2 separate regions of the Homo sapiens genome follow, and region 2 is linked to region 1. Evidence: fine-mapped expression QTL. A gene starts in region 1. The other region holds a variant in brackets. All regions are shown on one strand. Distances are from middle to middle. Region 1 holds the start of NABP1 (nucleic acid binding protein 1). Region 2 overlaps LOC124908062 (a long non-coding RNA gene).

The links. PIP is the estimated chance that this variant, and not a neighbour inherited with it, causes the effect.
Region 2: its variant is fine-mapped to the expression of NABP1 in whole blood (INTERVAL, PIP above 0.99).

Annotation. Positions count from the first base shown.
Region 1 is chr2:191,674,980-191,680,362 of GRCh38, reverse strand. It overlaps NABP1 (nucleic acid binding protein 1), which reads right to left and starts at 2,227. Exons shown (of 6, transcript NM_001031716.5): 1 at 1,658-2,227; 2 at 1,235-1,373. The coding sequence starts at 1,748. RefSeq lists enhancers at 1-1,056, 1,884-2,386, 2,596-2,675, 4,269-4,378 and silencers at 1,526-1,585, 2,186-2,535, 4,326-4,620.
Region 2 is chr2:191,707,088-191,712,470 of GRCh38, reverse strand. LOC124908062 (a long non-coding RNA gene) reads right to left here. Exons shown (of 6, transcript XR_007088698.1): 2 at 3,543-3,659; 3 at 2,688-2,737. Among named protein-coding and RNA genes, the nearest start is that of NABP1, 32 kb to the right of the region's middle. The variant G/A (reference allele first, on the strand shown) is at 2,837.

The sequences.
Region 1 (5,383 bases):
GTAAGCCTGCAAGGTAACACCAAGGAGCTCTAAGCTCCTACTCTCAGTGCTTTCCAATACTTCTAAGATTCTACTTATTAGGCCAACATCAATCTCCACCACTTTCCCTGCAGTTAATGATAAATTATTACAATTTTATTGATCTCAAAAGCTTCCAAATTCTGTTTTTAAGATCCTTTTCTGCCCTTTTATCTTCCTAAGATAAAAATTTGGTAAATTTCTAAAAGCAATCTATTTTTTAAAAAAAAAGTTCTAGTATTTTTTAAAGCCACCTATCCGCCAACTGACTCTTTTGGATGAAGGTATTGTAGATGCCTTTCTGCCAAACATTTTCTGTGTATCCCTTTGGTTTTTGCGCAACATCCACCTTACAGCAGAAGACACAAGAAATCATTTTGGAGAATGAGCCTTCCAGATACTGTAAAGTTTCCCTCTTTTTCCAAGTACAAATTTGACATATCACAGAATATGCTAAATCCTTTACCTATAATTTTCATTTATGTCCACATTTCTAAATAACATATGTAAAATACTGGCCAGGATTTCAAGTCATTAAAAATGGAGAAGGGGTGGGAAACAACTGAGTGGCAACTACACTAGAGAAAACAACTTATAAAAAAGAAAAAATATGGACTATACCAGTCTCCTAAAAAGACTCACTGACTCAGAATAGAACTAAAAATCTATGCCGGGCGTGGTGGCTCACGCCTGTAATCCCAGCACTTTGGGAGGTTGGGGCGCGCGGATCACTTGAGGTCAGGAGTTGGAGACCAGCCTGGGCAACACTCTGAAACCCCGTCTCTGCTAAAAATACAAAACTTAGCTGGGCGTGGTGGCACACGCCTGTAGTCCCAGCTACTTGGGAGGCTGAGGCACGAGAATCTCTTGAACCCGCGAGGCGGAGGCTGCAGTGAGGAGAGATCACGCCACTGCACTCCAGCTTGGCGACAGAGCGAGACTCGGTCCCAAAAAATAATAATAATTAAAAATCTACTTAACCTGTAAACCGGGGTAGAGGCGCGGATTTCCCAGCTGAAACCGACTGCCTTTCACTGCAAAGGTCTGTTACATCCCAGCGCTGCCCACCACCCAAAGTTAACACCAAAGGAGTTCAAAACTCCTCAAGAGTGGCCCACAGAAAAGGCGGGGGACTTCAGGGCTTGCCAAGATCCCAGGAGCCGGCCAATCCCGATTCTGCAGACTGTTAGGTCCCCCGACTTTTTTGCACACCTACCCTCTGGTCAACCGAATAATATCCCCTGGCTGTATAAGACCTCCGATCTCATCCCACACGGAAATAGTGATGCTGCCCGTTTTATCTGCTACTTTGCACGATCTCACTTCATGGCCGTCTTTGGTTTTGGTCACGCGTCCTGTGAGGATTTAAAAATCAAAGGGAGGGGTTGTTAGATAATGAGGACATCCAGAAAGGCTAACTCCTCCTCCGGTATTTTAATACATCTGGAAGGTGGGAAGTGACCAAGCCCAGGGCTCCCGCCTCAGGTAGGATCCGATCTCGGGCGGAGGCCACTAGAGCCACGTGGGTGGGGGAGGGGAGGGAGGAGGAGGGGAGCCCCGGGCGCGCAGCGGCCGGCGCCCCTGTCTCCCGCCCCGGGAGGCACAGCGGGCGGTGGAGTAGGCTGCAAACCCCACTTACCTATCTCCAGGACAATAAAGACGACATTTAAGTTTTTCAGTCCGGGCTTAATATCTCTTATAAAAATAAGTGGGTCGTTGACCCTATTCATATTGGGACAGGCGCGGCTACGGCTGCGGAGACGCGAGTGGGCAGGGCGGGGTCAAAGCTTCCCACCCTCCCGGGACAGGGGCGAAGGCAGAGGGGCGACCTTGGGCAGGGGTGGCGAGAGAAGGGGCAGAAAGCCGTTAGTCAGGGACCGGGCAAACCAGCCCGGACAGCACTGAGCCTAAAAAAAGAAAAAAAAAAAAAAAAAAAAAAAAGGCTCACAAGTTCTAAAGAAAAAAAGGCGAACCACTCCGCACACCAACCCCGCTCCCAACCGGGCGACAGGAAGGCAAGCGTACTAACTGCCCCGTTCTTTGGATAAAAGGAAAAAAAAACGCAGTGAGGGGACACTTCTGCCCTGAGTCCCGCTCACTCACACGGGCGCGCGCCCAGCCTGTCCCGGGCTCCGGGAAGGAACGGGCTGTGACAGCGAAACGGGAGCGGAGACAGAACACCGCACACCCAGCGTCCCAAACAGCGACTGATGAACACGCCCGCGCGCCGGCAGGACCCTCGGCCCGCCCCTCCCCTTGTGAAGTCACGCTGCGTCGGCACGCCTGCTGCCACGCCCGCCTGGTGCTGGGGAGGGGAAGCAAAGGGGCGGGACCCGGCCGCCGCAGCCCGCAGAGCTTCCCTCGCTCCTCCCCGGGGGCTGTCAGCGCGGGCTCCGCCCCCTCGTCCTTCCAATCGCTCTCGGCCCCGCCTCCCCCGCCCTCCCGTTCTCCACCCACTTCAGCTGTCGCCGCGCAGCAGCAGTTCTGTTCGGTTTCGCCTTCCTGCTGTGCAGTCTTTTGACGCTTGCTGTCCAACTTTGGAGTTTTCTTGCCTTTTTTTCTCTCAGAGTTGAGCCCCTGCCCGGGCCCTTTAGTCCCTCGGTCACGAGGAACGGTAGAGTTTAGAACCTGTGAGTACGTTAGAAAGTTCGCAGTCGAGGAAGAACAGGGTTCGGGCAAGGGCAGCTGGTCCGGTACCAAGGGAAAACAGGCTGGGATGGTGAAGGCGTCAGTGGCTACAAGGCTGGAAGTTTAGCACCAGAAGGGAATTTGGAGATCAATTCAACCGCCTCATTTCAGGCATACTTAAATTGAAACCCAGAAAGATGAGGTAATTTGCAGAAGGTCACCCAGCAACCCCTGAGCAGGCAGGACTGCAACACAAATGTCTGACGTGGGCTTCCACTGTGTAATGCTAAGCAGATAGGACGTAAATTCCTTTGCAGACTTCTCATTTTTCCTTACCCCCTGCCTCTCATATTACACACCTTCCCCATTTAGCTTTTCTTCTTTTACTTTGCACTTGCTTTTGTACATCTAAAAGGAATTAATTATTCAACAGCAGTGGGAACCCTTGAAACATAATCTGGAAAAAAAGATTAATAAAGTTTTTTTTATGTCGCGTAGTGAAAAGAGCATGTGCTTTAGAGACAAACCTGGGCTCCAGCTATTTACTTGTGAGAGCTTTAGGTCAATTGGCTTTTATTACAGCTTTTTAACCATAATAAAATGGGGATCCCTGCCTAGCAGAAGATTGATTAAATGGATCATAAATTGTCCAACTAGTGCCTAGCAAATAGTACATACTCAGTATTTTCCCCTTTTTAATCCCCGTTTTACAGGCGATGGAACTCACCAGAGACCAGATAGCTAGAGAATGGCTGAGCTGGGTTTTAAATCTAGTCAATCTTGACCCCAGAGCTCTCCAGCCTAAAGGTAATGTTTAGACTTAACTTCCAGTGGTGTCATTATAAGAGTCAAAAACAGACTGAAGAAATAAAATAGCAGAATAAAGTAGTGGGGCATTAAAGAATCATCTAGTTAATTCTTGGTGATGATAACAGAAATGTTGGGAAAAGTGTCAGAAGCCTTAATTTTCTCCCCATTCTTTCTGAGTATCTTTAGATCAACCACCACTTCCCAAGTATTTGCAAACAAGCAGCATAGATATTATAGCCCTAGAAAGAGTTGGAAACATTATCACAACATTAGCAAGAGAGTCAAGGCATTTTTAAGGAAACAGAAGCTTCCATTTCATGAACTAATAAAGCCCAAGGTGCCAAAGACACTGATGTCATACTGGAAAGTGGTGTAAAATAAAATTATAAGCATAATTTCAACATCAAATAAAACAAATGATGAAACATGCCAGTTAATGGCAGAGCCAGCGTCCAACCTCAATCCCAATCCAGCTCAGAAGCTCTAATTCTACCATGGTTATCTGGCAGGACTTGACACTTCAATTGGATTGTACTCAAAGCTGTATTTTCTTAAACAGGCAAAATATTCTCACAGAAGCAATATTTAAGGCAGAGCTCTTTTTTTTTTTTTTTAAGGTTTGACAAGATCTTCAAAAGATTAAGAATAGACAGGAAACCAATTAAGAATGTTAAGAGTTACGGCCAAGAGTTTGGGCAAAGAAAGTTTGCCACTCAACTCTCAATCATTTGCCCCCAGAAAAGGGATTAGGTTGGGCTGTTCAGGCTAATTATATGAACATTTTATAAAAAGAAATCAGACACAGAAAATCAAGCCCCACAAAAGCAGAAGCTGGTACTCCAAGCTGTGGCTCAGCCCTTCCCTTCCCCCACAGGACAGAACTCAGCTGAACATCTACTTCCTTCCCTACTAACTCAGCAGTTCTCAGAAAGGAAATGGCAACCATATGCTTTCTCATTAACCAAAACGAAAGGCAGCCTTGAGAAACAAGATGGTCTGGGCAATACAGAAACTGTTCAGCCCAGGCTAGTTGGTTTCAGCTACCTCTAAATCACTCCCAAAGATGTGGTTAATAAAAAGAAAAAGGAGATGTCAAGGAGACAATTATTGCTAGGCAGATATCTTTTCTTATATTACCATTCAGTGAAATAGATCTGCCACTCAGTCTACTCATTTAGGTCATAATGATTATATTGCTGATTCTTTAATACATACACAAGATTACTTCATGGTCTTCTTTTCTCTAAGGCTGTTGTTCTTCAAGCCTTCATTTTTCACAGCCTAAACATAAGCTTACTCTGAGATGATGGACTCTTCCACTTTACATCCAGAACCTCAACACCATGTTTTAGTGTAAAGATGCTTAGTGAGATCCACTGTAATACAGAAGGGCATCCATTAGAATCCTGGACATAGAAGGTTCTGTTATCTGGGTCCTCATTGATAAAGGTTTTGTTGTAAATTTTACCCAGCACTCAGTACCCATGCTCACTCCCAGGTTTTGGTTTCTGGAATTACCAAAATTATTTTCACTTTGTTTTCACTATCCATCTATTTAAAACTATTACAACATCAATGAAACAGTTGTTTGTACCAAGTACTGTTTGATTTTAAATATCTTGTATAGTGAAACTTAACAATTTAAAAAATTAACAAGAACCACAGTGTGCTCACTCACCTTACAGGTATAATCCACTTTGTAACATAATTGGCAACTAAAAAAACAAAAAAAAAAAACTCAAACAAATAGTATTTTCTTAATTTCCCTAAAACAATTTAACCAAAAGACTCAGAAGTAATGTTTAGTAATGATTGCAGCAACAGCCACACAAATCATCCCTATAGTGATAAATGCAAATACACTGAGCACTTGCTATGGGCCAGGCATTTTACACTTATAAGCACTTTACACTATTTTGGGTTTTGT
Region 2 (5,383 bases), 32 kb before region 1:
CCATCTTATCTTTTCCCCCAGCAAGTCCCAACCCATTCTGATTACTCAAAACACACTCAATTAATATTTACATATTGAGCAGCTCCTGTGTGGCATGCTACCATCTCCCTCCATGTTACTCAAGCCCATCCTCAGTTGGTGTCCTGAACTTTAGATGCATGTCCGTAACACAAGTGCCGGACATGTACTTGCTGATGGCCTACCATCACCTCCATCAAAGCACAGTACAACATTTGTGCTTTCTTGCAAGTCAAAACAGCCTAAACACAGATGACAATTATTGACTCAAGCCCAGATATAGAGTAGATTTCAGGATTCTGGCTTCTTTTCTATCTCCCTCAGCTCTGCTGTCTTCCATGGGTTGCTTTAATTCTCAGGCAGGCTTTTTCATGGTAAGATAATTGTTGCTGTAGTTCCAGGACTCAAATGTGCATCTCAGATGATGGAAGAGAGCCTCTCTTCCACAGCCACCGAACAGAAGCTAAGGGTTTTATTCTGACTGATAAATTGGGGCCAGTGTCTACCCCAATTTGCAGATGTATGATCCCTGTGATCAGAGAAATGCTATGAGCTGTTGGTGTACGGCATGGCTACAGGCTCATTCCTGGACTAGTTACTCTGGCAGGCAGATGTGATTATCATGAGTAGCTTAGGCCAAGTACAGCCTATGTCTGGAGCCAGAGGTGTGGTCAGTCCCACCAAGAGCATGGCTTCTAAATAGCAGAAGAATGGTGGAATGGATACTGGGAAGAAACCAGTAGTTTTAACTATAGGATCTTGTTTATTTGTAACCCAGTGAAAAGGAATAATTCTCTGTAGCTAGGTTTTCTAGACAGCTAAGGGTTCACTTCTTATGTTTTTTAACCAGTTTGAACAATATAGTTGAAAAGTGTATTTTTTTGTATTTCTGACTTTTAAAAGATATATACCAAAATTAATTTAACCATTTAATGACAATTTGAGGTCATCAAGATATAAATGTATTATTACATCAGTCACAATGCAGTGACTGACCTCAGGATTACTGAGCTGTGTGTGACCCCAGAGCACTCTTCACTTTAAAAAATTATATCTACTTTTTATGACTTTTCTTTTTCTTCTCTTTCTCTAAATTGCTACTTCTAATCTACAGTGGTATTGAGAACCAGATAATAAAGCTTTTAAAATTTCATATAAATTTAAAGTAGAAATGAAATTGCCTAGGAAGAAATAGGCAAAAGTGCAAACTATGCAGGCAAAGTGCATATTGCCTCTGCATAGGGACATTAACAGTTTTTGTTTGTTTGTTTGGTTTCTCTTTTTTTTCCTATAGCGATTAAGAATAACTTTATGATTTTACACACACACACACACACACACACACACACACAAATGAGTGAATGAAGTAAATAGGATTTGTGTGGTGCCTTCAAGTTCCCCAAGTGGAAAAATGTTCTAGCTGTTAATCCTTGCAGTCTGTGACAACCCTCCTAGCAAATTAGAGGCCTTGTTGTTGAATGCGTGGTTGCCTGGTATGTTTGGCGTTAGAGAGCAGAAGTGGTCATGGAAAAGCCAGAACATATCAGGAGGAAGGTCAGTCACCTATCTACCATGCGGGCTTAGCAGGGAGCCCTTGACCTGGTAGGTCACCCCCAGGCAGAGACTGGACTACAGTCTTATAAAGAGGGAAATTCAGTCTTGCCTGCACCCCAGGGTTGGATAAATGGTGAGGGTGATGACTCAACACTGTGGAAACTCAGAAGTGACAATTTAATAACAAACAATGTAAAGGGATCTGCTACTCACAAGGAATTTTTCTTCTGCCCTAGAAACTAGATGAGGAACCAAAGTATAATTAGAAGGTAGATTTGGTTAGGATAAAATTAGAACAAATGATGAAGTGGCATAAGGTTAAAATAGACTGGTGCATCCATCCATCAACACACTGGGCCACATCTGGCAATCACACCAGACCTAAGCAGCATGCCACTAAATGGTGCTCTTGTTGAACTGCCAAATTTTGTCTCCATGACTCACCATTTTCTTTATTTCACTACCAAACAATTCCTAAAGAAGCCATTTTTTCTTTACATATGTTAAGACAATGCCAGGCTATGGATAAAGGTCGTTGTTCTTTAAGTTACTTTTCATACTTCTCTTTATAGCTATAGCAGTTTCTGAGTTCCAGGGTAACCTCATGGTTACATCCCACTCTACATACCACATTCAGCTTCTAGGAGAGCTGACAGCCAAACAGAAAAGGGCTCAAATACGTATAAAACTAAACTCATTATCTTCTCCGCAAGCTCCTCCACTGAACAAAAGCAGTTTCCCAAACTCACTTTTTAAAACATCACTGTATGCTCATCTTTCACTTTTCTCTCTCCGTTGGTGCCCCATATTCTTGTGGAGGCCAAGTCTTCTTATTTATTCCTCCTTCTCCATGTCTCTCCCATCCATCATTTTCTTTTCACTCCCATTGCCCTACTTCTTTATCTCATTCTGAAATATTGCAATGGCCCAATAACAGGCATCTGTCTCTTCCCTTTTATGCTCATCTGCATATTATTGCCCTATTAATCCTCTAGAAGCGTCCTTATTCAAAACTTTTAACAACTCTCCATTTTGCAAAGAATCACATGCAAATGCCTTGTACTGGTGCTCAAAGCCCTGCCATATTTGGTTTTCATGTTATGTTTTGGCTTTACCTTCTGTGACCCCTCCACATGGGTGCTCTGTATCAGCCTTTGTATAATCACTATGGACAAATGAAAAAATCAAATATAAGCAATGTTTATGTTTTGCAATGCAAACCTACAGGAAAGAAGTCTTTGAAATTAGTACCAATAGATGCAGT[G/A]TGCAGATTTTCATTTTAACAGCCCATTCGGATTTTTTCTTTCTTTCTTTCTTTCTTTGACAGAGTCTCCCTCTGTCACCCAGGATGGAGTGCAGTGGCGCGATCTCGGCTCACTGCAAGCTCCACCTCCTGGGTTCACGCCATTCTTCTGCCTCAGCCTCCCGAGTAGCTGGGACTACAGGCGCCCGCCACCATGCCCGGCTAATTTTTTTGTATTTTTTTTAGTACAGATGTGGTTTTGCCGTGTTAGCCAGGATGGTCTGGATCTCCTGACCTCATGATCCACCCACCTCGGCCTCCCAAAGTGCTGGGATTACAGGCTTGAGCCACCGCACCCGACCCAGACTTCTTTTTTAATTTTCTGCATTGACTTTTATAGACACGTACAGACATTTATAGAACCATGGTTGGTTATCAGGTAATCTATGGCTTCAGTCATGGTTTAGAAAGAAACCTGAAACTGTCCAGTGTAGATCTTCATCCAATGACAGACAGGCATCACATAACTCACATTAACTTGAGTCTACCATCATTCAGAAATATCATGGAAGGTAAATCACTCTGACAGTTGACTTGGTAGAAACCCTGCTTATTCCTCACACAGGGTGTGTCCTTGAGGAGCATAATATGATTGGGCAGATCTGGCCACCTTTCAAAAAGGACCCAACACAAAAAGTGATTTGAGCAATAAAGGAAATATACTGACTCGTTTAACTCAGAAGTCCAGGCATGGCTGTTTACAAATGTTCAAACATGGTCTTGGGAAGCTCCTCTGTATCTTAGCTCTTCATTTCTCTATGCTTTATTCCCCAGAAGAATTTTTCTGTATGGGAGCAAAGATGGTCAACAAGATTAGCATCTCCTAAGGATGCTAAGGATGTAAAAGGATGAGGACAGTTTCCTAATCAGTCAGTAAACATCCTACAGTGGGTTCTCATTGGCCCAGCTCAAGTCACATGCCTATTACTGAGCCAATCACTGTGTCCAGGAGCGGAGTCGGGTATGATATTTTTATTACCCAGGACCACCTCATATACTTTTGCTCCCTTCTGAAGCCAGAGGATGGGATCAACCCCATTGAACTACATGGACTGAGAATGGGAGCAAGGTGTTTCTCCAAAGGAAAACCAAGGTGCTGTTATAAGAAGAAGACAGAACAGAGAAAACAAACAAGTGAATAGTAGGAGCAGCTTCTTGCATTTGTGGACATGCCTATTACCTCTTACTATAATATGTTCATTAATGAGACCCACAACTTTATATTCAAAATTTAAAATAAACTTTGGCAATATGCATCAATATTTTTACATACACTTAAGCCAGCAATCCTATTTCTAGAAATAATAATAATAGCTATGCTAATTAAGTGCTTCATTATGTGGCCAACACTGGCCTAAGCAATTTGCATAGGTTATTTCAATTAATACAGAACAACCCTAACATGCAAGTGATATTGTCTCCGTTTTTAAGCTCAAGAAATTGAGCTTAGAGAGGGTAAGTGATTTACTCAAGGTTGCACAGCTAATAAGAGGCAAAGCCAAAATTCAGCCTCCAAAGTCTTAACGACTATTAGTTGCTTTTTTCAGAAGTCTCAGTGGCAATACACTCTCATTGATTTTATTCTAAGAAAAAATACTATAGGTGAGAAAATATGTACATCCCAGGATGTTATTTATAAGTATTTGGTCACAAAACTCAAATGTGAAATAAAGTATCAATAAATTATGTCAACCTACATATGTCCCCTCATTATCAGTAAATACATACAAAGTTCCTACTTTATAAAATGATAAAAAATTAATGACTTTCTTTGTAAGGCTGTGAATTTGCAAGTTTGTTCAAACCAGCTGCCTAAGCTACAAAAGCACCCACAGTCAAGGTTAATCAAACACAATACGGCCTTGTGCATTGTTTCAAATCTAACACAATGTTAGCTTATTATTTAGGAAAAAATTGAATACTTAATCTGTACAATCACTCAAAATGAATCTGTATATGTATTACTGTCTTCTATCAGGCCAAAGGGAGCTTTAGGCTAAAGTAGTTAATCTTGGTGATGCTCAACACTGGAATATTCCATCAAATGGGAACGTGATTGGCTTGAGAGACCAGAAAGCTGATGATTTTAACCACTGCACCTAACATGACAAGTTTCGATTAACAGTTGGAAACCTACACTCTGCCGTAGTCCCCAACTCAGGGCAAAAGACAGATGAAGCAGGACAGCAGCAGCTCTGAAGCTAATAAGGAGCTTAGACCACTAGGAAGGTCAGCTGGAAAAATAGCCATACTGCTCTATACTTCTGACACTGCCTAGGCTGGGTGTGGGGAAAGGGAAGCTCAAAGTGTGTATGTCACTAATTCATTATTGCCACTTTTTCAAAAAGATGGATATTAATGTAAACAAGGTGAAGTTCTTACTGGACTTCAGATTTTTTTCTTTTTTTTTTCCCTTTTAACCTTTAGTAATACTTAGAAAGATCAATTAGTTTATAATCAGGCTCTTTCCATCATGCTTCCATTTCTCATTACCTTCAGGAATGTATC